Regions from separate parts of the Homo sapiens genome. Here all the other regions are linked to region 1. The links come from fine-mapping of genetic effects on gene expression. A gene starts in region 1. Each other region holds a variant in brackets. All regions are shown on one strand. Distances are between the middles of the regions. Region 1 holds the start of FAAH2 (fatty acid amide hydrolase 2). Region 2 has its middle 41 kb from the start of NLRP2B. Region 3 overlaps FAAH2 (fatty acid amide hydrolase 2). Region 4 has its middle 11 kb from the start of SPIN2A.

The links. PIP is the estimated chance that this variant, and not a neighbour inherited with it, causes the effect. A credible set is the group of variants that fine-mapping cannot tell apart.
Region 2: its variant is the best candidate, but not a certain one, in a credible set for the expression of FAAH2 in stomach (GTEx, PIP 0.76).
Region 3: its variant is the best candidate, but not a certain one, in a credible set for the expression of FAAH2 in whole blood (TOPMed, PIP 0.68).
Region 4: its variant is the best candidate, but not a certain one, in a credible set for the expression of FAAH2 in lung (TOPMed, PIP 0.71).

Annotation. Positions count from the first base shown.
Region 1 is chrX:57,283,982-57,289,854 of GRCh38, forward strand. It overlaps FAAH2 (fatty acid amide hydrolase 2), which reads left to right and starts at 2,725. Exons shown (of 11, transcript NM_174912.4): 1 at 2,725-3,036. The coding sequence starts at 2,845.
Region 2 is chrX:57,718,101-57,723,973 of GRCh38, forward strand. No RefSeq gene overlaps it. Among named protein-coding and RNA genes, the nearest start is that of NLRP2B, 41 kb to the left of the region's middle. The variant C/A (reference allele first, on the strand shown) is at 3,239.
Region 3 is chrX:57,427,932-57,433,804 of GRCh38, forward strand. FAAH2 (fatty acid amide hydrolase 2) reads left to right here. Exons shown (of 11, transcript NM_174912.4): 8 at 3,987-4,106. Among named protein-coding and RNA genes, the nearest start is that of FAAH2, 140 kb to the left of the region's middle. The variant C/T (reference allele first, on the strand shown) is at 3,439.
Region 4 is chrX:57,145,016-57,150,888 of GRCh38, forward strand. It overlaps a transcript of FAAH2 not described here and a transcript of SPIN2A not described here. Among named protein-coding and RNA genes, the nearest start is that of SPIN2A, 11 kb to the left of the region's middle. The variant C/G (reference allele first, on the strand shown) is at 3,030.

The DNA of each region.
Region 1 (5,873 bases):
TTCCTTTAAGGTGACTGCGCTGTGCTGTGGGTTCGCGTCAGTCCCCAACTTCTATACTACCTCCAGAGCCTGATGAGAACATGAGCGTGGAAAAACGTCAGCTTGCCTGCTCCCTCTGGGAGCTCTGTCCCAGGGAAGTGTGGAGCTGCTTCCAGCCTGAGAACTCAGGCAGGGCTGGGGTAGCCTTGTTAGTGTCCCAAGCTAATGGGCCTTATCCTGCGGCGTGCCCGGGAAGAAAGCCTGCAATCTGGGCATGGTGGTGGGTGCTTATAATACCAGCTACTTGGAAGGCTGAGGCAGGAGAATCACTTGAACCCGGGAGGCAAAGGTTGCAATGAGCCAAGATGGTGCCACTGCACTCCAGTGGCGCTCCAGCCTGGGCGACAGAATGAGACACCATATCATAACAAAACAAAACAACAACAACAACAACAACAACAACAAAACCTGGAATATTATTCAGCTTTTAAAAAGCAGGAAATTTAACATTTATTTTAAAGATAAATCTTAATGGTCTTATGATAAGTGTAATAAGTCCATCATAAAAAGTATGAATCCACTTATACGAGTTAGCTAAAGTAGTTGCACTTTTAAAAAGAGAAAATAGAATGGCATTTGTAAAGGGCCAGTCAATGGGGAAAACAGGTAGTCGATTCATGTATAGTATGTATTCATTTTGCAAGATAAAAATGTTCTGGTGATATGTTGCCAACAATGGCAATATACTTAACATGGTCTAACTATTAATATAAAATTAAAATATTTAAGATTGTAAAAAAAAAACAGAAGCTTTACATCCATATGTGATTTAATCTTCATAACACCATATGGCAGCTGTTATTCTACTTTACAGATGAGAAAACACACCTAGGGACATTAAGTGATTTGTTCAAGGTCAAAAACATAATGAGTGCTGGATCTAGGATTTGGATTCAGGTCTGTCTGGTCAGAGCCCAATCAGTGAGCATTCTTTGTACCTCAGGCTCACATATTTGTCATTTACAACTTAAATAAAGTAACAAAAGTTGGGCAAAGTAAATATTTTCATTTTGACAAAACCTTTCTCTGGTAAGGAAGTTTCACTCAGCTAACAGGTTTTGCTCAGAACTGTAATGGAGCCTAGATTATGACAACCTGCTTTATCAGCTTTCTTTACTGGATCTGCTAGATGTGCCTGTCATGATTAACCTGCTTTCTACCAGGTGCTTGAATTAGGCTAGAAGTGCTGTGATGACACTTTCAGTATCAACCTAAGTTCTGCAGGTGAAAAGACAGTGACCTGGATGACGTTGTCATTTCACCTACCCAAGACCTTAAATGCCAAGCTCGAATCCCTATCTTCAACGCTCATTATCTCATAATCACATACCTTCAGCCTACAAACCTGTATTGACTTCTCATCAAGCCCTATGTCAGGCTCTGGCAATACAAAGAGGAATTAGAATGACCCTGTTCTTCGAGGAGTTTATATCTAGATGGGGCATAGACACAAAAACCTAACACATAACAGAGGGTTGTAAGTGCTATGATTTTGTTAATCTGTGGAGTGCAGGGTTACAAAAGAGTGGCATCACACCCAGTTGTAAGTTCAGGGAAGACTTACTGGAGGAGGTGGTACTTGTCCTGAACTAGATGAAGAGGTTGGGAAAGCAGATGCAAAGATAAGGAGGGAAGAGAGAACTTTCGGATAGTTGTTTGTCAGGAGCTTAGCATGTGAGGGATAGAAGGGGTTAGGGATGAAGCATAGAGTTTTTCAGACACCAGTCATGAGAGTCGAATGCTGGACAAAGTAGATGGGTCTTGAATCTGTGGAAAATGGAGAATTATTGCGGAGTTATTGGCAGGGGTGTAATATTGTCAGATTTACATATTAGAAAGAACACTCTATAAATAAAGGCAGAGTGATCAGCTAGATTATTTGTAGAAGTTCATGTAAACCTCAGTGAGATCTGAGCCAGACTGAGTTGAGAAGGAAGGGCTGGATTCTGTCATGAGAATAAGAGAAATGGAAGAATCTGAAGTGATTCTAGATTTTTGGCATGGCTGACTGGGTGGATGAAAATTCCATTTGTAGACCTGTAGGGGCAGCAGTCTGGGGGACAAAAGGATGAGTTTTGGACTTGTTGAGTTTGAACGATCTGGAAGACATTCACATGGATATGTCAAAAAAGGCATTTCAAGTGTCCAGTTTAGGAGACAGATGGGCTGGAGATTTGATGTTCATCAGTACTACCTGTTAGTGATCTTATAAGGATTAAATAATATGCATATGGAAAATATATATATACTTGCCATTTAGTTGTTTGTTGAGCATACTGAATATTTGCATACAAAGGTATACTTACAACACTTTTTTCACAAGCACAGCTGAAATAAACTATAACAACTACCACTTATACTATTTACCATAAATTGTGCTAAATGTTTTTACTTATTATCTAGTGTTTATGGTAACCCTTTGATATAGGAGTAGTTATTCCCATTTTTTTTCTTATGAGTAAACTGACTAGGAGATATAGTGTAGGTTGGCCAGGGCTACACAGTAGCAGAACTGGGGAATTCCAAGGCCAGTGTTCTTTCTTATGACGCATTTTCTGTCTTGGGTTACAACAGCACTAACGACAGGTAGCATTGCACACAGGCAGCTGCTGGGAAGTCTCCGCCCCCATCTCTGGCTAGGAGCCCTGCAGGTGATGATAAACAAGCTCCTGTGGAATTGTGGGTAGACACTGGACTTGTAAACGAAAAGCTTCATAAGTCCCTCTTTGCTTAGTACTTTTCTCGTCCTTTCCCCAGGGTGCACGTAACCCTCAAGCACTAGGACCGTGCGGAATCCAGGCTGCGATGGCACCTTCATTTACCGCCCGCATTCAGTTGTTCCTCTTGCGGGCGCTAGGCTTTCTCATAGGCTTAGTAGGCCGAGCAGCTTTAGTCTTAGGGGGTCCAAAGTTTGCCTCAAAGACCCCTCGGCCGGTGACTGAACCATTGCTTCTGCTTTCGGGGATGCAGCTGGCCAAGCTGATCCGACAGAGAAAGGTGAGAATGCAATTCAGAAGAGGCTGGAGGGACAGGTCTTTTAGCAGGATCCAGGAAGCTTAGTGGTGGCGGTGGTTGTGGTTTCCTTTCCATTCTCTACTAGGGCGACTTAGGAGAGGCATTTATTGGGGATGAAGGGAGACTTCTGGGTGTTGTAGTACGTTTATTTTTACCAAGGACATTTACTGTGGGCATGGGTTGGACTATTTTGGTACCGTCATAGTCCTTCCTATCCATTTGTCCTATTTGTGCATAATTACTGTGTGTGGGGTAAAGCAGGTGTGAATTTCAAACTGATTCTCAGCTATGGAAAGTCAGTCTCTCTCTTTCTCTCTCCCTCTCCCTTTCTCTCTCTCTATTCTTCCGTCTCTCACAGGCCCCAGATCAACCTGCTGCTTACCATTCAACCAATTCTTTTTAAAATTGATTTAAAGTAAAAGTAGTACTTGGTCTAGGATAGTAAAAGCTGCGTCTACCATATATTTATTGCATAGTATATGTGAAATACTCTGCCTGGGTACTTAAACATATTCTATTTCACGGATGCAGTTATATAGGCAATATTCATATTTTATGCATAAGGAAACTGAAGTAAAATGATTTGCACAAAAATTGTTGAAAGTTCTAAATTAAAAAAATTAAGCAGCTCATTCGTTCTCTATAGAATTGTGCAGGCAGGACTATTCATCTCTGTCATATAAGTGATTGGTTACCTGGAGATCTTGAGCTACAGTCTAGTATTGTTTATTTATACTCTGCTTGTTTTCACCTCTCTGCTGTTTCATTTGTTTTTCGTCATTGCTTTATTTCCAGAATCTACAATACTACTTAACAAAGAATAGGCATGCAGCAAATACTATCTCAGTATGTGCTCCTGAATGTATGAATTATTAATATTTGTATTGTACTCCTGGTTACCTTTCAAAGACATATCCTGTCTTCTTGCCGTACCCCCTCCCCAGCCTCTACCCACTCATGCATGCTTTTCTACCAGTTAGGGAGGCAATGGGATGTATTCGGTTGGTGCAAAAGTAATTGTGATTTTGTAATTGAGATTTTGACATTACTTTTAATGGCAAAAATCACAATTACTTTTGCACCAACCTAATAGTAGAAAGATGATATATTTCAAATTTTGGACTGTCTGTTCATGGCTCTGTGACCTTGTGCCACACCAATAGCAGATAATACATATCAAGAACCTGGCACATAGAAGATTGTGTAACATAATGATTAGAAGGATGGACTCTAGAGTCAGACTCCCTGGGTTCAGAAATCCTAGCTTTTCTACGATCTAGCTCTGTGATCTTAAAAACATTTCTTTTTTTTTTTTTTTTTTTTTTTTTTTTTGAGACGGAGTCTCGCTCTGTCGCCTGGGCTGGAGTGCAGTGGTGCGATCTTCGCTCACTGCAAGCTCCGCCTCCCGGGTTGACGCCATTCTCCTGCCTCAGCCTCCCGAGTAGCTGGGACTACAGGCGCCCGCCACCATGCCCGGCTAATATTTCGTATTTTTTAGTAGAGACGGGTTTTCATCGAGTTAGCCAGGATGGTCTTGATCTCCGGACCTCGTGATCCACCCACCTCGGCCTCCCAAAGTGCTGGAATTACAGGTGTGAGCCACTGCGCCCGGCCTTAAAAGCATTTCTTAACTTTTTGTGTCTCTGATGTCCTTTAAGAAAAATGGATTTGATAATAGAATCTACCTTTTAGAGTTATTGTGATGAATTAAATGAATTCATATATGTAAAACTTATAGAATATTGTCTGGCATACTAATCCTATATAAATGTTAACTATTACTATTATTACTATCATCAAGTTTTTGGTAACTAGCCATTTTTTATTCATGCTTGCCCATGAGATGAGATGATCTAGATATAGTTTATCTAGATTTATAAAAATGTTCTGAAGGGGAGAAGTGGAGTGGATACAAAGTTTTATTTATCCCTTAGTTTCTGACATTTTTAAACATGGAAATATTGTTACTGCAAAACAACTAAATTTCTTAAACACCTACCATGTGCCACTTGATAAGGCAAACATTTTACTTAGATTTTTGTAAATTGAATCTTCATAATGACATTTTGAGGTACATATGATTATCATCATCTTACAGAGAAGGAAAATAAAGTTTAGAGCTTTCTAATAGCTTGTCCAATGCCACACAGCTAGAAAGTGGTAGAGCCAGGTAAATCTTACTCAATTTTTGTTGGCACTTTATGGAAGAGTATGCTTCTTGATAACGAGCTCTGATTGAACAGTCAGTTTCCTGTGAGTCAGTGTCTACTGTCTTTTGCTTGCTTTTGTGTCCCTATGATTACTCTTCTATTATTCAGAATTCAGGCTACCACTATGTCTTCTGAACCTCCACAGCCTCAGTTGGTATCCAAGGTTGGGCCTTGCCAAAAATACATCAACTTATGGCCACCATCATACATAGCCTGGTCATTTGGATATTTGATTTTGTTGATGATCCGAAAGTCAATGAGGTTTTGAAACCGTAAGTCCCACCCTTTATTCATCTCCTTTGTTAGGAGACAAGGGTGGAAAGAGGCTTCATTGCATGATCTTTTTTACTTTCAGATTTTTGAAACGTGTGCTCATGTTACCTATTTATAATAAATATAATCAATACTTTAGAAAATTAGAAAAAAGTATTTTCAGTTTTTAGATAAGTAATAAAAAATAAGTATGAAGTTGATCTAAAGGAACAGATACGTAAATAGTTCTGAATTATGTTACGTGGTAAAAATATAAGGTACTGAACAATGAATATAATATGATTCCTTTTGTGTGAAGAAGGGAGAGAGAGCTGAAGAGAGGGGAGAAGGGAATAA
Region 2 (5,873 bases), 430 kb after region 1:
GGACATGAACTCATCATTTTTTAGGGCTGCAGTATTCCATGGTGTATATGTGCCACATTTTCTTAATCCAGTCTATCATTGTTGGACATTTGGGTTGCTTCCAAGTCTTTGCTATTGTGAATAATGCCACAATAAATGTAAGTGTGCACGTGTCTTTATAGCAGCATGATTTATAGTCCTTTGGGTATATACCCAGTAATGGGACGGCTGGGTTAGATGGTATTTCTAGTTCTAGATCCCTGAGGAATCGCCACACTGACTTCCACAATGGTTGAACTAGCTTACAGTACCACCAACAGTGAAAAAGTGTTCCTATTTCTCCGCATCCTCTCCAACACCTGTTGTTTCCTGACTGTTTAATGATTGCCATTCTAAGTGGTGTGAGATGGTATCTCATTGTGGTTTTGATTTGCATTTCTCTGATGGCCAGTGATGGTGAGCATTTTTTCATGTGTCTGTTGGCTGCATAAGTGTCTTCCTTTGAGGAGCGTCTGTTCATGTCCTTTGCCCACTTTTTGATGGGGTTGTTTGTTTTTTTCTTGTAAATTTGTTTGAGTTCATTGTAGATTCTGGATATTAGCCCTTTGTCAGATGAGTAAATTGCAAAAATTTTCTCCCATTTTGTAGGATGCCTGTTCACTCTGATGGTAGTTTCTTTTGCTGTGCAGAAGCTCTTTAGTTTAATTAGATCCCATTTGTCAATTTTGACTTTTGTTGCCATTGCTTTTGGTGTTGTAGACATGAAGTCCTTGCCCATGCCTATGTCCTGAATGGTAATGCCTAGGTTTTCTTCTAGGGTTTTTATGGTTTTAGGTCTAACGTTTAAGTCTTTAATCCATCTTGAATTGATTTTGGTATAAGGTGTAAGGAAGGGATCCAGTTTCAGCTTTCTACATATGGCTAGCCAGTTTTCCCAGCACCATTTATTAAATAGGGAATCCTTTCCCCATTGCTTGTTTTTGTCAGGTTTGTCAAAGATCAGATAGTTGTAGATATGCAGCGTCATTTCTGAGGGCTCTGTTCTGTTTCATTGATCTATATCTCTGTTTTGGTACCAGTACCATGCTGTTTTGGTTACTATAGCCTTGTAGTATAGTTTGAAGTCAGGTAGCATGATGCCTCCAGCTTTGTTCTTTTGGCTTAGGATTGACTTGGCAATGTGGGCTCTTTTTTGGTTCCATATGAACTTGAAAGTAGTTTTCTCCAATTCTGTGAAGAAAGTCATTGGTAGCTTGATGGGGATGGCATTGAATCTGTAAATTACCTTGGGCAGTATGGCCATTTTCACGTTATTGATTCTTCCTACCCACGAGCATGGAATGTTCTTCCATTTGTTTGTATTCTCTTTTATTTCCTTGTGCAGTGGTTTGTAGTTCTCCTTGAAGAGGTCCTTCACATCCCTTGTAAGTTGGATTCCTAGGTATTTTATTCTCTTTGAAGCAACTGTGAATGGGAGTTCACTCATGATTTGGCTCTCTGTTTGTCTTTTGTTGGTGTATAAGAATGCTTGTGATTTTTGTACATCGATTTTGTATCCTGAGACTTTGCTGAAGTTGCTTATCAGCTTAAGGAGATTTTGGGCTGAGACAATGGGGTTTTCTAGATATACAATCATGTCATCTGCAAACAGGGACAATTTGACTTCCTCTTAAATTTTTTTCTTACTTTTTTCTTTGACTTGTTGACCTTCAGGAACATGTTGTTTGATTTCTATATGTTTGTGTAGTTTCCAAAGTTTATTTATTTCTAATTTGATTCCATTGTGGTCAGAAAATATATATAATATAATTTCTACTTTTTCATATTTGTTCAACATGTTTGTGTCCTAACATAAGGTCTACTCTGGAGGATGCTCCATGTGCTGATAGGAATATGTATTCTGTAGCATTTAGTTGAAATATTCTGTAAATCTCAGCAAGGTTTTTTTTTTTTTTTTGTCTAGAATATAGTTTAACTGTGATTTTTTAAAATTTTCTGTCTAGATTATCTGTCCATTATTGAGAATGAGCTGTTGAAGACATCTACCATTGCTGTACTACAATCTATCTCTTCCTTTAGATATATTAACGTTTGCTCTACATACTTGGGTACTCTGGTGTTGAGTGCAAGGCCAATTAATATTACTGTATCTGCTTGCTAAATTTCCCTTTTTATTATTATATAATGGCCTTTTATCACTTTTCACAGCCTTTGACTTTTAGTATATTTTATCTTATGCAAGTAAAGCTCCTCCTGCTCTTTTTTGGTTTCCATTTGCATGAAATATCTTTCTTGATTCCTTTATTTTCAGTCTATGTATGTCTTTATAGGCAAGTTGGGATTCTTTAGGCAGCATACAGTTGAGTCTTTAGTATATCCTTTCAGCCACTTTATGCATTTTATTTATTTATTTATCCGACTTTTAATCTTAAGTTCAAGGGTATATGTGCAGGATGTGAAGGTTTGTTGCATAGTAAACATATGCCATGGTGGTTTGCTGCACAGATCATCCCATCACCCAAGTATTAAATCCAGCATCCATCAGCTATTTTTCTTGATACTCCCCTCCCTCCACTCTCCAGCCTCCGATGGGTCCCAGTGTGTATTTTTTCCCCCTTGTGTTCATGTGTTCTCAACATTCAGCTCTCACTTATAAGTGAGAACATGCAATATTTGGTTTTCTGTTTCTGCTTAGTTTCCTAAGGATAATGGCCTCAAGCTCTGTTCGTGTTACTGCAAAGCACATAAGCTCATTTTTTTCTATGGCTGCATAATATTCCATGGTAACAATCAGTGATGTTGAGCTTTGTTTTATATGTTTGTTGGCCACGTGAATTTTTTTGAGACGTATCTGTTTATGTTCTTTGTGCACTTTTTAATGGGGTTGTTTTATTTATTGTAAATTTAAGTTTCTTATAGATGCTAGATATTAGACATTTGTCAGATGCATAGATTGCAGAAATTTTCTCCTATTCTGTAGGTCTGCTTACTCTCTTGATAGTTTCTTTTGCTGTGCAGAAGCTCTTTAGTTTAATCATATCCCATTTGTCAATGTTTGCTTTTGATGAAATTGCTTTAGATACCTTTGCCATGAAATCTTTGCCCATGCCTATGTCCTGAATGGTATTGCCTCGGTTTTCTTCTAGGGTTTTTATAGTTCTGGGTTTTATATTTAAATCTTTAATCCATCTTGAGGCAGTTCTTGTTTTTTTTTTGTTTGTTTATTTTTATGTTTTTGTTTTTGAGACAGAGTCTCACT[C/A]TGTCGCCCAGGCTGGAGTGCAGTGGCATGATCTTGGCTCGCTGCAAGCTCCACCTTCCAGGTTCACACCATTCTCCTGCCTCAGCCTCCCAAATAGCTGGGACTACAGGCGCCCGCCACCACACCTGGCTATTTTTTTGTATTTTTAGTCGAGATGGGGTTTCACCATGATAGCCAGGATGGTCTCGATCTCCTGACCTCGTGATCCACCCCCCCTTGGCCTCCCAAAGTGTTGGGATTACAGGTGTGAGCCACCGTGCCAAGCCAGTTCTTGTATAAGTTTTAAGTAACGGGTCCTGTTTCAATTTTCTGCATATCGCTATACAGTTTTCCCAGCACCATTTATTAAATAGGGTATCCTTTCCTCATTGCTTGTTTTTATCAGATTTGTTGAAGATCAGATGTTTATAGGTATGCAGACTTAAATCTCAGTTCTCTATTCTGTTCCAGTGGTCTATTTATTTGTTCTTGTACCAGTGCCATGCTGTTTTGGTTATTGTAGCTGTTTAATATAGTTTGAAATCAGGTATCAACAAAGTGATGCCTCCAGCTTTGTTGTTTTTGTTTAGAATGGCAACTTAGGCTCTTTTTTTTCCCATATAAAATTTAAAATAGGTTTCGCTAATTCTGTGAAGAATGTCAATGGAAGTTTAAAGGGAATAGCACTGATTCTGTAAATGGGTAGTATGGCCATTGTAACAATATTGCATACTTTTATCCATGAATATGAAATGCTGTTCTATTTGTTTTTGTCATCCCTGATTCCATTCAGCAGTGGTTTGTAGTTCTCCTTGAAAAGGTCCTTCACTTCCCTTGTTAGCAGTATTTCTAGGTATTTTATTCTTATTGTGGCAATTGTGAATGGGACTTTATCTTCATTTGGCTCTTAGTTTGCCTGTTGTTGATGTATAGAAATGCTAGTGATTTTTGCATATTGATTTTGAATCCTGAGACTCTGCTGATGTTGCTTATCAGCTTAAGAAGCTTTTGGGCTGAGACAGTGGGGTTTCTAAATATAGGATTATGTCATCTGCAAACAAAGATTGTTTGACTTCCTCTCTTCCTACTTGGACACCCTTTATTTCTTTCTCTTGCCTCATTTCCCTGGCCAGAAATTTTACTACTATGTTGAATAGAAGTGGTTAGAGAGGGCAACTTTTTCGTGTGCCAGTTTTCAAGGAGAATGCTTCCAGCTTTTGTCCATTCAGTATGATATTGGCTGCGGGTTTGTTTTCTATAGATATTATTATTTAGAATTATGTTCCTTCAATACCTAGTTTATTAAAAGTTTTTAACCTAAAGGGCTGTTGAATTTTATCAAAGGTCTTTTCTGCATCTATTGAGATAATCATGTGGTTTTTGCCTTTTTTCTGTTTATGTGATGAATCATATGTATTGATTTGTGGATATTGAACCAACCTTGCATCCCAGGGGTGAAGCCTACTTGATCATGGTAGATAAATTTTTTGATGTGCTTCTGAATTAGGTTTGCCTGTATTTTTTTTGATAATTTTTGCATTGATGTTAATAAAGGATATTGGCCTGAAATTTTTTTTTGTTGTATCTCTGCTAGGTTTTAGTATCAGGATAACGCTGGCCTCATAGAATGAGTTAGGGAGGAGTAACTCCTTTTCAATTTTTTGAAATAGTTTCAGTAGAAATGGTACTAGCTCTTCTTTGCATCTCTGGTGGAATTCAGCTTTGAATCTGTCTAGTCCTTGGCTTTATTTGGTTTGCAGGGTATTTATTACTGACAATTTCAGAACCATTTTTGGTCTACTCAGGGATTCATTTTCTTCCTGGTTCAGTCTTGGGAGAGTGTATGTATCCAGGAATTTATTCATTTATTTTAGATTTTCTGGTTTATGTGCATAAAGTTGTTTATAGTATTCTCTGATGGTTGTTTGTATTTTTGTTGTGTCAGTTGTAATATATCCCTTATTATTTCTGATTTTGTTTACTTGAATCTTCTCTCCTTTTCTGTATTATCTTAAAAATCACTGAGTTTTCTTAAAATGGCTATTTTTGAATTCTTAGAGCTCACAAATTGTCATCTCATTAGGGTCAGTCACTGGTTTCTTGCTTTATCCATTTGGGGAAGTCATGATTCTCTGTTTGCTGTTGTTTGTTTGAATATACATCTATGCCTTTGCATTGGAAAATTATTTATTCCAATCTTCTGCTTGTCTTGTTTTGTTTTTTGGTATGTTTGCTTAAAAGTTCTTTGTAATAAACCTGTTGAATGTATTTTTCTTCCACTTGGTCGGTGCCACCTCTTTTGCCCAAGACGGCACCTTAAATCTCAGGTTTGCTTCAGCTCTAGCAAACTTTGAAGTGTTGCCTGTCTCAGGTGGGGCATCTCCCAAAATAGCCAAGATACAGGGCAGAGTTTCCTGGTCTGGGAATATTAGTCCTTCTCCAACATCACCCCCTGCTTTGTCTCTGGCTGTCATCAGAATTTTATCTTCCTTCATGCCCTCATGCTGCTTCCCATGGTTTGAATAGGAGCAGGTCTTTTTTTTTCTTTTTAGGAAATCCAAAATGTTGGGAAAGTTGGTGTTCACTTTGATCTCACTTTTTTCAGTGTATTGACCATGAGTTTGGGGAAAATTTTATTCATGCTTGGTGCCTAGGA
Region 3 (5,873 bases), 140 kb after region 1:
GCCCTCTGAATTTAAAAAGAAGTCAAATTATTTCTGTTTGCTGATAATATGACCTTATACATAGAAAACTTTAAAGACTCTACCCCAAAGACTCCTAGATTTGATAAATGAATTCAGTAAAGTTTCAGGATACAAAATCTATGTACAAAAATTACTATTTACCAGTAATAATCAAGCTTAGAACCAAATCAAGTTGTCAGTTTGTTAGCATTTACAATAGCTGTAAAAATAAAATATCTGGAATGCATTTAACCAAGGAAGTGAAAAATACCTACAAGGAAAACTATCAAACACTGATTAAAGGAATTTGAGATGACAAAAATAAATTGAAAAAATCTTATGCTCTTGAATAAGAGGAATGAATATCATTAAAATGTCTATATTATCTAAAGCAATCTACAGATTCATTTCAATTCTCATCAAAATACCAATGTAATTTTGCACAGAATTAGAAAAAAATCACCAAATTCATATGGAACCACAAAAGAGCTTGCATAGCCAAAACAATCCTATGCAAAAGGAACTAAGTCGGATGCATCACATTACCTAATTTCAAATTATATTACAAAGCCATAGAAACTACAACAGCATGGTATTGGTATAAAAATAGACACATAGATCAAAAGAATAGAAGAGAGAACCCAGAAATTAAGCCACATAACTACAGCCAACTGGTCTTCGATAAAGTCAACAAAAGATAGGCTGTGAAAACAACATCCTATTCAAAAAGGGTTCTTGGAAAATTAGGTGGCCATACACAGAAGAATAAATATGGACCTGTATCTCTCACCATATGCAAAAATTATCACAAATGTATTAAAGGCTTAAGTGTAAGACCAAAACTATAAAAATACAGGAAGAAAACAGGGAAAACTATTCTGAACATCATTTTTGGCAAAGACATCATGACAAAGACCTTAAAAACAAATGCACAATACCAAAAATAGACAAATGGGACTTAAACTAAAGTGCTTCTTTACAACAAAAGAAATTATCAACAAAATAAACAGACAACGTGCAGAATGGAATAAACTATTTACAAACAATACATCCAATAAAATATTAATAACTAGGTTCCACAAAGAACTCAGACATCTCAACAACAACAAATAATTCTGCCAAGGCCAGGTGCAGTGGCTCACGCCTGTAATCCCAGCACTTTGGGAGGCCGAGGTGGGCGGATCACGAGGTCAGGAGATCGAGACCACCGTGGCCAACACGGTGAAACCCCATCTCTACTAAAAATACAAAAAAAAAATTAGCTGGGCGTGGTGGCGGGTGCCTGTAGTCCCAGCTACTTGGGAGGCTGAGGCAGGAGAATGGCGTGAACCTGGGAGGTGGAGCTTGCAGTGAGCCCAGATGACGCCACTACACTCCAGCCTGGGCCATAGAGTGAGATTCCATCTCAAAAAAAAAAAAAAAAAATTCTGCTAAAATGTAGGCAAATGGCATAAACAGACTTTTTCAAAAGAAGACATACAAATGGCCAACAAACACATAAAAAACTGCTTAACATTATTAATCAATGAAATGCAAATTAAAATTTCGATTAGCTATTGTATTACACCACAGTAGCTATTACTAAGAAGTCAAAAAATAACAGATATTGGCAAGTATGGAGAAAAAAGGAAGCACTCATAAGCTTTAGTAGAAATATTAATGAATATAACTTGTAATTAATACAATACATAGGGTTCTCAAAGAATTAAAAATAGAACTACCATTCTATGCAATAATTCCACTACTGGTTATCTACCAAAGGGAAATAAATTTTATACAAAAGGATATCTACACTCATGTGTTTATACCAGCATTATTCACAATAGAAAAGATATAGAATCAACTAAACTGTCAATCAATGGATTATCGGATAAAGAAAATGTGGTGTATATATACAATGGATTGTATTCAGCCATTAAAAAAGAGAATAAAGTCATTTTTTTTTTTCCAGCAACATCAATGGAACTGGAGGCCATTGTCTTAAGTGAATGGTTTGGAAACAGAAAGGCAAATACCACATATTTTCACTTATAAGTGAGAGCTAAATAATGTATAGAACTGGACATAAGGAGTAAAATAATAGACACTGGAGACTCAAAAGGATGGGAGGGATCAGAGGGGGTGAAGGATGAACAATTACTTAGCGGATACAATGTACATTATTAGGTTGATGGCTACACTGAAACCCCAGACTTCACCATTATGCAATATATCCATGTAACAAAACTACTTTCTCCTAAATTATAAATATTAAAACAAAAACAAAAACACCTCTATTGTTCACCTGACCTCCATAAGCCACTATTCTGATTGTAGACTATAGTGTCATTTTAGGTCTCCTGGCATTAGTATCAGTTCAGGACCTGTGTCCAATATTCTCCAAAACTTCTGATTATTTTTCCCTAATTCTTCCATGCCATAATTTATTTTGGGGAAAGCTGTGAGAAAGATTGACATTATATGTTGTTGGGCGTGTGGTGGGATGCTTCTTCCAGGGGACCCATTCTTCCCTTCATTCAAGGGTTGTGAGTCTGTAAACTGGCTCAAGCCTGGGAATTGATTGAAGGGCCATGACTCTGTTTTATGTTACAAGCTAGAATTTTGTTCAATTGACCTAGGACTCCTCTGCTTATACAGATTTAGTAAGAATATAATGGAATTATTATCTGTCTCACTACTAGAAACATGATTAACTAACAATGTCATAGGTCTGCATCAGTCAGATTATTCTGATTGCTGCTTTGACTCTTCTGCTTATGTAGTTTTTGTCAGTTAAGTGCTGCCACTTTTCCCCTGCCACTTGGGAATCCAATTATTTCTATTAAATTTATTTTTTTTAGTTTAATGGTATCAATCCATGTAATTTCTGACCTACAGAGAAAAGTGATCTTCAAAGACGATAGGGTTCCCACAAAAATTTATTTCTCGTAATTGTGGCTAAGAATTGTTCTCAGTACTCTCCCAAGGTCGGGGAGAAGATCTTAAATGATAAATGTCGCTAAGAATTTGGATTCTTTCCTCTACAGTATGTCAAGGCAGGACTGGAATTTCAACTTCATTTAGTGTAGGACACCTTTTGGTCTATGTGTTTCTAAACTTTTTTTAGAGTATTTTCTGACACACTGAGCTGCAACACTAAATCGAGACTCTCTCCTTCTTGGGCTCATATCAATACATTTGGCCTGTTTCAGGTTTGTGTTTCTTCCACAATTATCCATACTTTTAATATCCATTGTCATACGTATTCCCTGGATTTATGTCTATATAAATTAGAAAAATAAACATGACCTGACAAGACTTGAGTCTAGTTATAGGTCTAGAAGCAAAGAAGGGTGGTATGGTGGGTCCTAACAATGATCAGCAGTGTCTTACTTCTGCTTCTTCTCAGAGCTTAAGTTGTATTTTATTTCGCTGCATGTAATCTCTTGCTCACAGGTA[C/T]CCAGATATCTGCAGTAACCCAGCAATCCATTTGTGCAATAGCTTCCACCACTGCTCTAAGCATTTTCCAGCCTACAGTCTAAACTATGCTATCATTCCAGTTAGTATTCCAAGTCAGAAAAGACACAACAGTCCCTCAGACTGTCCCCAGAGAAGCTAGAACTTTACAAGCAAGTTCCATTCATATTCTTTCATTCCAATGGAGGAACCAATAATTTGATGGATTCTTTCAGACACTCAGTGCTGTGTTAGAGAGGGAGTGGGACAAGGGCAAGCAGAAATGACATGAAATTTTCTAGCATTTCCTTGGTTGCTTCAGCTTCTTAGCTTGTTTCAAGAGTTCTCACAAAACTACTTTGCTCTATATATTTTGGGGTGTTTTGTTTTGTTTTTGTTTTTTTGTTTTTTTGTTTTTTTGTTTTTTTTGGTGTTTCCATGGGGCAATGAGGGCCTGGCGCTTTCTGCTCTGCCATCTTGCTGATGTCACTCTTCAGTAGTATCTCCTCTTCTCATCATGTTTGTCTGTTTTTATATCTTTCTTTTATAAGGTTGTGGTTCACCTTGAAACTATTCTAGGAGCCTCAGTTCAACATGTTAAACTGAAGAAAATGAAGTACTCTTTTCAGTTGTGGATCGCAATGATGTCAGCAAAGGGACATGATGGGAAGGTATTTTTACCTCTTTCTTTACTTACTTTTTTCTTTGTGTAAACATTTATTGAGCTTCTATTGTGGTCCATATGTTAGAGGTGTAGAGAAAAGAAACTCATGAAAAAAATAAGTAAAATAGTAAAATATTTAAAGAAAGCACAGTTTGGTGAATGCCTATACGGAATAGGCATATATGCTATTCACAGAGAGTGTGCCCATTCCTATATGGAAATCAGTGAAGGCTTCTTGATGGAGGAATTGCAGTCTCCCAAATCTTGAATGATTTGGAAACCTTAACCAGGTAGAGAAGAGATAAAGATTATGCCAGGCAGAGGGGAAACCACGGCAAGAACAAGGACACAGGGGAATGAAGCTAATCTTAGTATGTTGTATGCTAGGTACTCAGAACATGTAGGTTTCAATAAAGCCTTAAGTGATTAGGTAACTTCAGTTGTCAAGTTCCACCTTTACCTTCCCCCTGAGATGTTTTAAAAATACATGTACAGAGCTATCTGCCCATCTCCTGTTTATTTTTCCCTTCCTTTTCATATCTGCTATGATTAGAAGCTGATACAGGTACTTGTGAAAGAAGCTTCCCTTATGCCAGGTTTTTTCAGGCTTGCTGAAGACTTTTAATATGAACACTTTGAGAACTATAAGATAAATTCAACATTCTGGAGAATTTAACTTTTGTGAATATAGGAATGTTTTCTGCCAATGGGAATATTTGTGTTAGAGCATGACACATCCAAATTTGAAGTGCAGGCTACCTCCTAGTTTTGTTATCTTGGGCAAGTTACTTAGCTATTCTGCAGTTTACTCATACGTAAAATTAAGCTATTGATACCCATTTTACAGCTTTATTTTGTGGATTAACAATATTTTTTATAAGATATCTCACATACAATAGCCCTTCCATAAGGCAGAACTCACACGACCCTCTCTACCTTAAAAAAAAAAAAAGTCACTTTTAAAATTTTTTCAAATACCCAGTTTTCTTTGCAGAAACACTTTGGAAATCTCTCAGAACAAAACGTTTATACAAATTCACAAGGGGAGGAGGTTTGGCTCTGAGATGAAAGTTTATAATCAGAACTTTAGATCAAAACTAAAGCTGAAATCAAAAACAAAAAGTTTATTTTCAGTTCACTTCCAGAAGACACTGTCTTATAATTTGGATAAACTGTTAACATACATGCTGACTGTCAAAACTGGTCCTGTAATTACAAATCTGGAAAGAAAAAGAGGGGGGAAAAATCTGCTCTCCTCTTACTTTTTTATGATACCAGATTTAGAGCTGGGATTATGATGCCAGATTTAGAGCTGGTGGTCATAACCACTTTACCATGTTGCTCATTAATAATCACTTAAAATAGGTAGAAAAGGGATGTGGCCATTTTCTAACCCATACTTTTTATGTTAATGTAGCTCTTTTTTAATTACAAACCTAATTTAAAATTTTTAAATTTTGTGACTACATAATAGTTGTATGTATTTATGGGATATATAAGATGTTATGACACATACATACAATGTGTAGTTATGAAATCTGTAACTGAAGTATCCAACAGTTTAAACATTTATTATTTCTTTGTGGTGTAACTTTCCAATTCCACTCTCTTGTTTTATAATATACAACAAAGTACTTTAAACTATAGTCACCCAATTGTGCTATCAAACACTAGACCTTATTTCTTCTCTTTTTATACTCAATAATCATCCCCACTTCTCTTGCAGTTTCTTGTGCATTTGCACTATAACATTTATTTCTTTTTATACTATCTC
Region 4 (5,873 bases), 140 kb before region 1:
GTGCTGCTATAAACATGCATGTGCAGATATCTTTTTTGTATAATGACTTTTTCTGTGGGTAGTGGGATTGCTGGATCAAATGTTAGTTCTACTTTTAGTTCCCTAAGGAATCTCCACACTGTTTTTTCTAGTGGTTGTACTAGTTTACATTCCCACCAGCAGTGTAGAAGTGTTCCCTTTTCACCACATCCATACCAGCATCTATTAGTTTTTGTTTTTTGATTATGATCATTCTTTTGGGGGGGGGTAAGGTGGTATTACATTGTGGTTTTGATTAACATTTCCCTGATCATTGGTGATGTTGATCATTTTTTATGTTTGTTGGCCATTTGTATATCTTCTTTTGAGAATTGTGTATTTATGTCCTTACCCCGCTTTTTGATGAGGTTATTTGTTTTTTCTTGCTAATTTGTTTGAGTTCCCAGGAGATTCCGGATATTAGTCCTCTGTTGGATGGATAGATTGTAAAGATTTTCTCCCAATCTGTGCATTGTCTGTTTACTCTGATGACTGTTCCTTTTGTTGTGCAGAAGCATTTTAGTTTAATTAAGTCCCACTTATTTATTTTTGTTTTAGTTGCATTCGCTTTTGGGTTCTTGGTCATGAAGTCTTTGCCTAAGCCAATGTCTAGAAGGATTTCTCCAATGTTGTCTTCTATAATTTTTACACTTTCAGGTCTTGGATTTAAGTCCTTGATACACCTTGACTTGATTTTTGTATAAAGTGAGAGATGAGGATCTAGTTTCATTCTCCTACATGTGGCTTGCCAATTATGCCAGCACCATTTGTTGAATAGGCTGTCCTTTTCCCACTTTATGTTTTTGTTTGCTTTGTTGAAGTTCAGTTGGCTGTAGGCATTTAGGTTTATTTCTGGGTTCTCTGTTCTGTTCCATTGGTCTATGTGCCTGTTTTTATACCAGTATCATGCTGTTTTGGTGACTATGGCCTTATAGTATAGTTTGAAGTTGGGTAATGTGATGCCTCCAAATTTTTTTTTTTCTTTTTTTGCTTAGTCCTCCTTTGGTTATGCAGGCTCTTTTTTTGGTTCCATATGAATTTTAGGGTTGTTTTTTCTAGTTCTGTGAAGAATGATGGTGTCATTTTGATGAGAATTGCATTACATTTGTAGGTTGCTTTTAACAGTATGGTCTTTTTCACAATATTGATTTTCCCCATCCATGAGGATGGGATGTATTTCCATTTGTTTGTGTTATCTGTGACTTTTTTCAGCAGTGTTTTGTAGTTTTCCTTGTAGAGGTCTTTCACCCTCTGAGTTATGTATATTTGTAAGTATTTTATTTACTTTGTGGCAATTGTGAAAGGGATTGAGTTCTTGATTTGATTCTCAGCTTGGTCACTGTTGGTGTATAGCAGAGCTACTGATTTGTGTACATTAATTTTGTATCCTGAAACTTTGCTGAATTCATTTATCAGTTCTTGGAGCTTTTTGAAAGTCTTTAGGGTTTTCTAGGTATCTGATCATATCATCAGCAAATAGTGGCAGTTTGACTTCCTCTTTACCAATATGGACAGCATTTATTTCTTTGTCTTGTCTGATTGCTCTTGCTAGGACTTCCAGTACTATGTTGAACAGAAGTGGTGAGAGTGGGCATCCTTGTCTTGTTCCAGTTCTCAGAGGAAATGCTTTCAACTTTTCTCCATTCAGTATAATGTTGGCTGTGTGTTTGCCATAGATGGCTTTTATTACATTCAGGTATGTCTCTTCTATGCTGATTTTGCTGAGGATTTCAATCATAAAGTGCTGCTGGCTTTTGTCAAATGCTTTTTCTTCATCTATTGAGACAATCAGGTGATTTTTGTATTTAATTCTGTTTATGGGGTGTATCACATTTATTGACTTGCTTATGCTAAACCATCCCTGATTCCCTAGTATGAAGCCCACTTGATCATGGTGGATTATGTTTTTGATATGCTGCTGGACTTGGTTAGCTAGCATTTTGTTAAGGATTTTTGTATCTATATTAGTCAGGGATATTGGTCTGTAGTTTCCTTTCTTGGTTATGTCTTTTCCCGGTTTTGGTGTTAGGGTGATACTCACTTCACAGAATGATTTAGGAAGGATTCTCTCTTTATCTTGTGGAATAGTGCCAATAGGATTTGTACCTATGTTCTTTCAATGTCTGATAGAATTCAGCTGTGAATTTGTCCCATCCTGAACTTTTTTTCTTGTTGGTAATTTTTAAATTGCCATTTCAATCTTGCTGCTTGTTATTGGTCTGTTCAGGGTTTCTAATTCTTCCTGATTTAAGCTACAAGATTTGTATCTTTTCAGGCATTTATTCATCTCCTCTAGGTTTTCTAGTTTATGCGCAAGTTCATAGCAGCCTTGAATGATCTTTTGTATTTCTGTGGTGTCGGTTGTAATATCCCCCATTTCATTTCTAATTGAGCTTATTTGGATATTCTCTCTTCTTTTCTGGGTTAATGTTGCCAGTGGTTTATCAATTTTATTTATCTTTTAAAAGAACCAGCTTTTTGTTTCATTTTTCTTTTGTAATGTTTTGTTTAATTCAATTACATTTCATTCCGCTCTGATCTTGGTTATTTCTTTTCTTCTGCTGTGTTTGGTTTTGGTTTGTTTTTGTTTCTCTAGTTCCTTGAGGTGTGACATTAGGAACATTGTCTATTTGTGCTCTTTCACACTTTTTGACGTAGGTTAACGCTATCAGCTTTCCTCTTAGCATCACTTTTGCTGTATCCCAGAAATTTATAGGTTCTTTCACTATTATCATTCAGTTCACAGAATATTTTAATTTTCATCTTGATTTCATTGTTTACCCAGTGATCATTCAGGAGCAGGTTATTTGATTTCCATGTATTTTCATGGTTTTGAAGATTTCTTTTGGAGTTGATTTCTAGTTTTATTCCACTCTAGTCTGAGAGAGTACTTGATGTAATTTCAATTTTTAAGAATTTGTTGAGACTTCTTTTTGGCCTATCATATAGCCTATTACATAGAATTTTCCACGTGCTGATGAATAGAATGTACATTCTGCAGCTGTTGGATA[C/G]AATGTTGTCAAAGATCAGATAGTTGTAGATATGCGGCATTATTTCTGGGGGCTCTGTTCTGTTTCATTGGTCTATATCTCTGTTTTGGTACCAGTACCATGCTGTTTTGGTTACTGTAGCCTTGTAGTATAGTTTGAAGTCAGGTAGCATGATGCCTCCGGCTTTGTTCTTTTGGCTTAGGATTGACTTGGTGATGCAGGCTCTTTTTTGGTTCCATATGAACTTTAAAGTAGTTTTTTCCAATTCTATGAAGAAAGTCATTGGTAGCTTGATGGGGATGGCATTGAATCTATAAATTACCTTGGGCATTAAGGCCATTTTCACGATATTGATTCTTCCTACCCATGAGCATGGAATGTTCTTCCATTTGTTTGTATCCTCTTTTATTTCATTGAGCAGTGGTTTGTAGTTCTCCTTGAAGAGGTCCTTCACATCCCTTGTAAGTTGGATTCCTAGGTATTTTATTCTCTTTGAAGCAATTGTGAATGGGAGTTCACTCATGATTTGGCTCTGTTTGTCTGTTATTGGTGTATAAGAATGCTTGTGATTTTTGTACATTGATTTTGTACCCTGAGACTTTGCTGAAGTTGCTTATCGGCTTAAGGAGATTTTGGGCTGAGACAATGGGATTTTCTAGATATACAGTGATGTGATCTGCAAACAGGGACAATTTGACTTCCTCTTTTCCTAAATGAATGCCCTTTATTTCCTTCTCCTGCCTCATTGTTCTGGCCAGAACTTCCAACACTAGTTGAATAGGAGTGGTGAGAGAGGGCATCCCTGTCTTGTGCCAGTTTTCAAAGGGAATGCTTCCAGTTTTTGCCCATTCAGTATGATACTGGCTGTGGGTTTGTCATAGATAGCTCTTATTATTTTGAGATATGTCCCGTCATACCTAATTTATTGAGAGTTTTTAGCATGAAGAGGTGTTGAATTTTGTCAAAGGCCTTTTCTGCATCTATTGAGATAATCATGTGGTTTTTGTCTTTGGTTCTGTTTATATGCTGGATTACATTTATTAATTTGCGTATGTTGACAGCCTTGCATCCCAGGGATGAAGCCCACTTGATCATGGTGGATAAGCTTTTTGATGTGCTGCTGGATTCGTTTTGCCAGTATTTTATTGAGGATTTTTGCATCAGTGTTCATCAAGGATATTGGTCTACAATTCTCTTTTTTGGTTGTGTCTCTGCCCGGCTTTGGTATCAGGATGATGCTGGCCTTATAAAATGAGTTAGGGAGGATTCCCTGTTTTTCTATTGATGGGAATAGTTTCAGAAGGAATGGTACCAGCTCCTTCTTGTACCCCTGGTAGAATTCGGCTGTGAATCCATCTGGTCCTGGACTTTTTTTGGTTGGTAAGCTATTGATTATTGCCACAATTTCAGAGCCTGTTATTGGTCTATTCAGAGATTCAACTTCTTCCTGGTTTAGTCTTGGGAGGGTGTATGTGTCGAGGAATTTATCCATTTCTTCTAGATTTTCCAGTTTATTTGCATAGAGGTGTTCATAGTATTCTCTGATGGTAGTTTGTATTTCTGTGGGATCGGTGGTGATATCCCCTTTGTCATTTTTTATTGCATCTATTTGATTCTTCTCTCTTTTCTTCTTTACTAGTCTTGCTAGCGGTCTATCAATTTTGTTGATCTTTTCAAAAAAACAGCTCCTGGATTCATTAATTTTTTGAAGGGATTTTTTTTTGTCTCTATTTGCTTCAGTTCTGCTCTGATTTTAGGTATTTCTTGCCTTCTGCCAGCTTTTGAATGTGTTTGCTCTTGCTTTTCTACTTCTTTTAATTGTGATATTAGGGTGTCAATTTTGGATCCTTCCTCCTTTCTCTTGTGGGCATTTAGTGCTATAAATTTCTCTCTACACACTGCTTTAAATGTGTCCCAGAGATTCTGGTGTGTTGTGTCTTTGTTCTCATTGGTTTCAAAGAACATCTTTATTTCTGCCTTCATTTTGTTATCTACACAGTAGTCATTCAGGAGCAGGTTGTTCAGTTTACATGTAGTTGAACGGTTTTGAGAGCGTTTCTTAATCCTGAGTTCTAGTTTGATTGCACTGTGGTCTCAGAGACAGTTTGTTATAATGTCTCTTATTTTGCATTTGCTGAGGATTGCTTTACTTCCAACTATGTGGTCAATTTTGGAACAGGTGTGATGTGGTGCTGAAAAGAATGTATATTCTGTTGATTTGGGGTGGAGAGTTCTGTAGGTGTCTATTAGGTGCACTTGGTGCACAGCTGAGTTGAATTCCTGGATATCCTTGTTAACTTTCTGTCTCATTGATCTGTCTAATGTTGACAGTGGGGTGTTAAAGTCTCCCATTATTATTGTGTGGGATTCTAAGTCTCTTTGTAGGTCACTAAGGACTTGCTTTATGAATCTGGGTGCTCCTGTATTGGGTGCATATGTATTTAGGATAGTTAGCTCTTCTTGTTGAATTGATCCCTTTTCTATTATGTAATGGTCTTCTTTGTCTCTTTTGATCTTTGTTGGTTTAAAGTCTGTTTTATCAGAGACTAGGATTGCAACCTCTGCCCTTTTTTGTTTTCCATTTGCTTGGTAGATCTTCCTCCATCCCTTTATTTTGAGCCTATGTGTATCTCTGCATGTGAGATGGGTTTCGTGAATACAGCACACTGATGGGTCTTGACTCTTTATCCAATTTGCTAGTCAGTGTCTTTTAATTGGAGCATTTAGCCCATTTACATTTAAAGTTAATATAGTTATTTGTGAATTTGATTCTGTCTTTATGATGTTAGCTGGTTATTTTGCTCGTTAGTTGATGCAGTTTCTGCCTAGCCTTGATGGTCTATACAATTTGGCATGTTTTTGCAG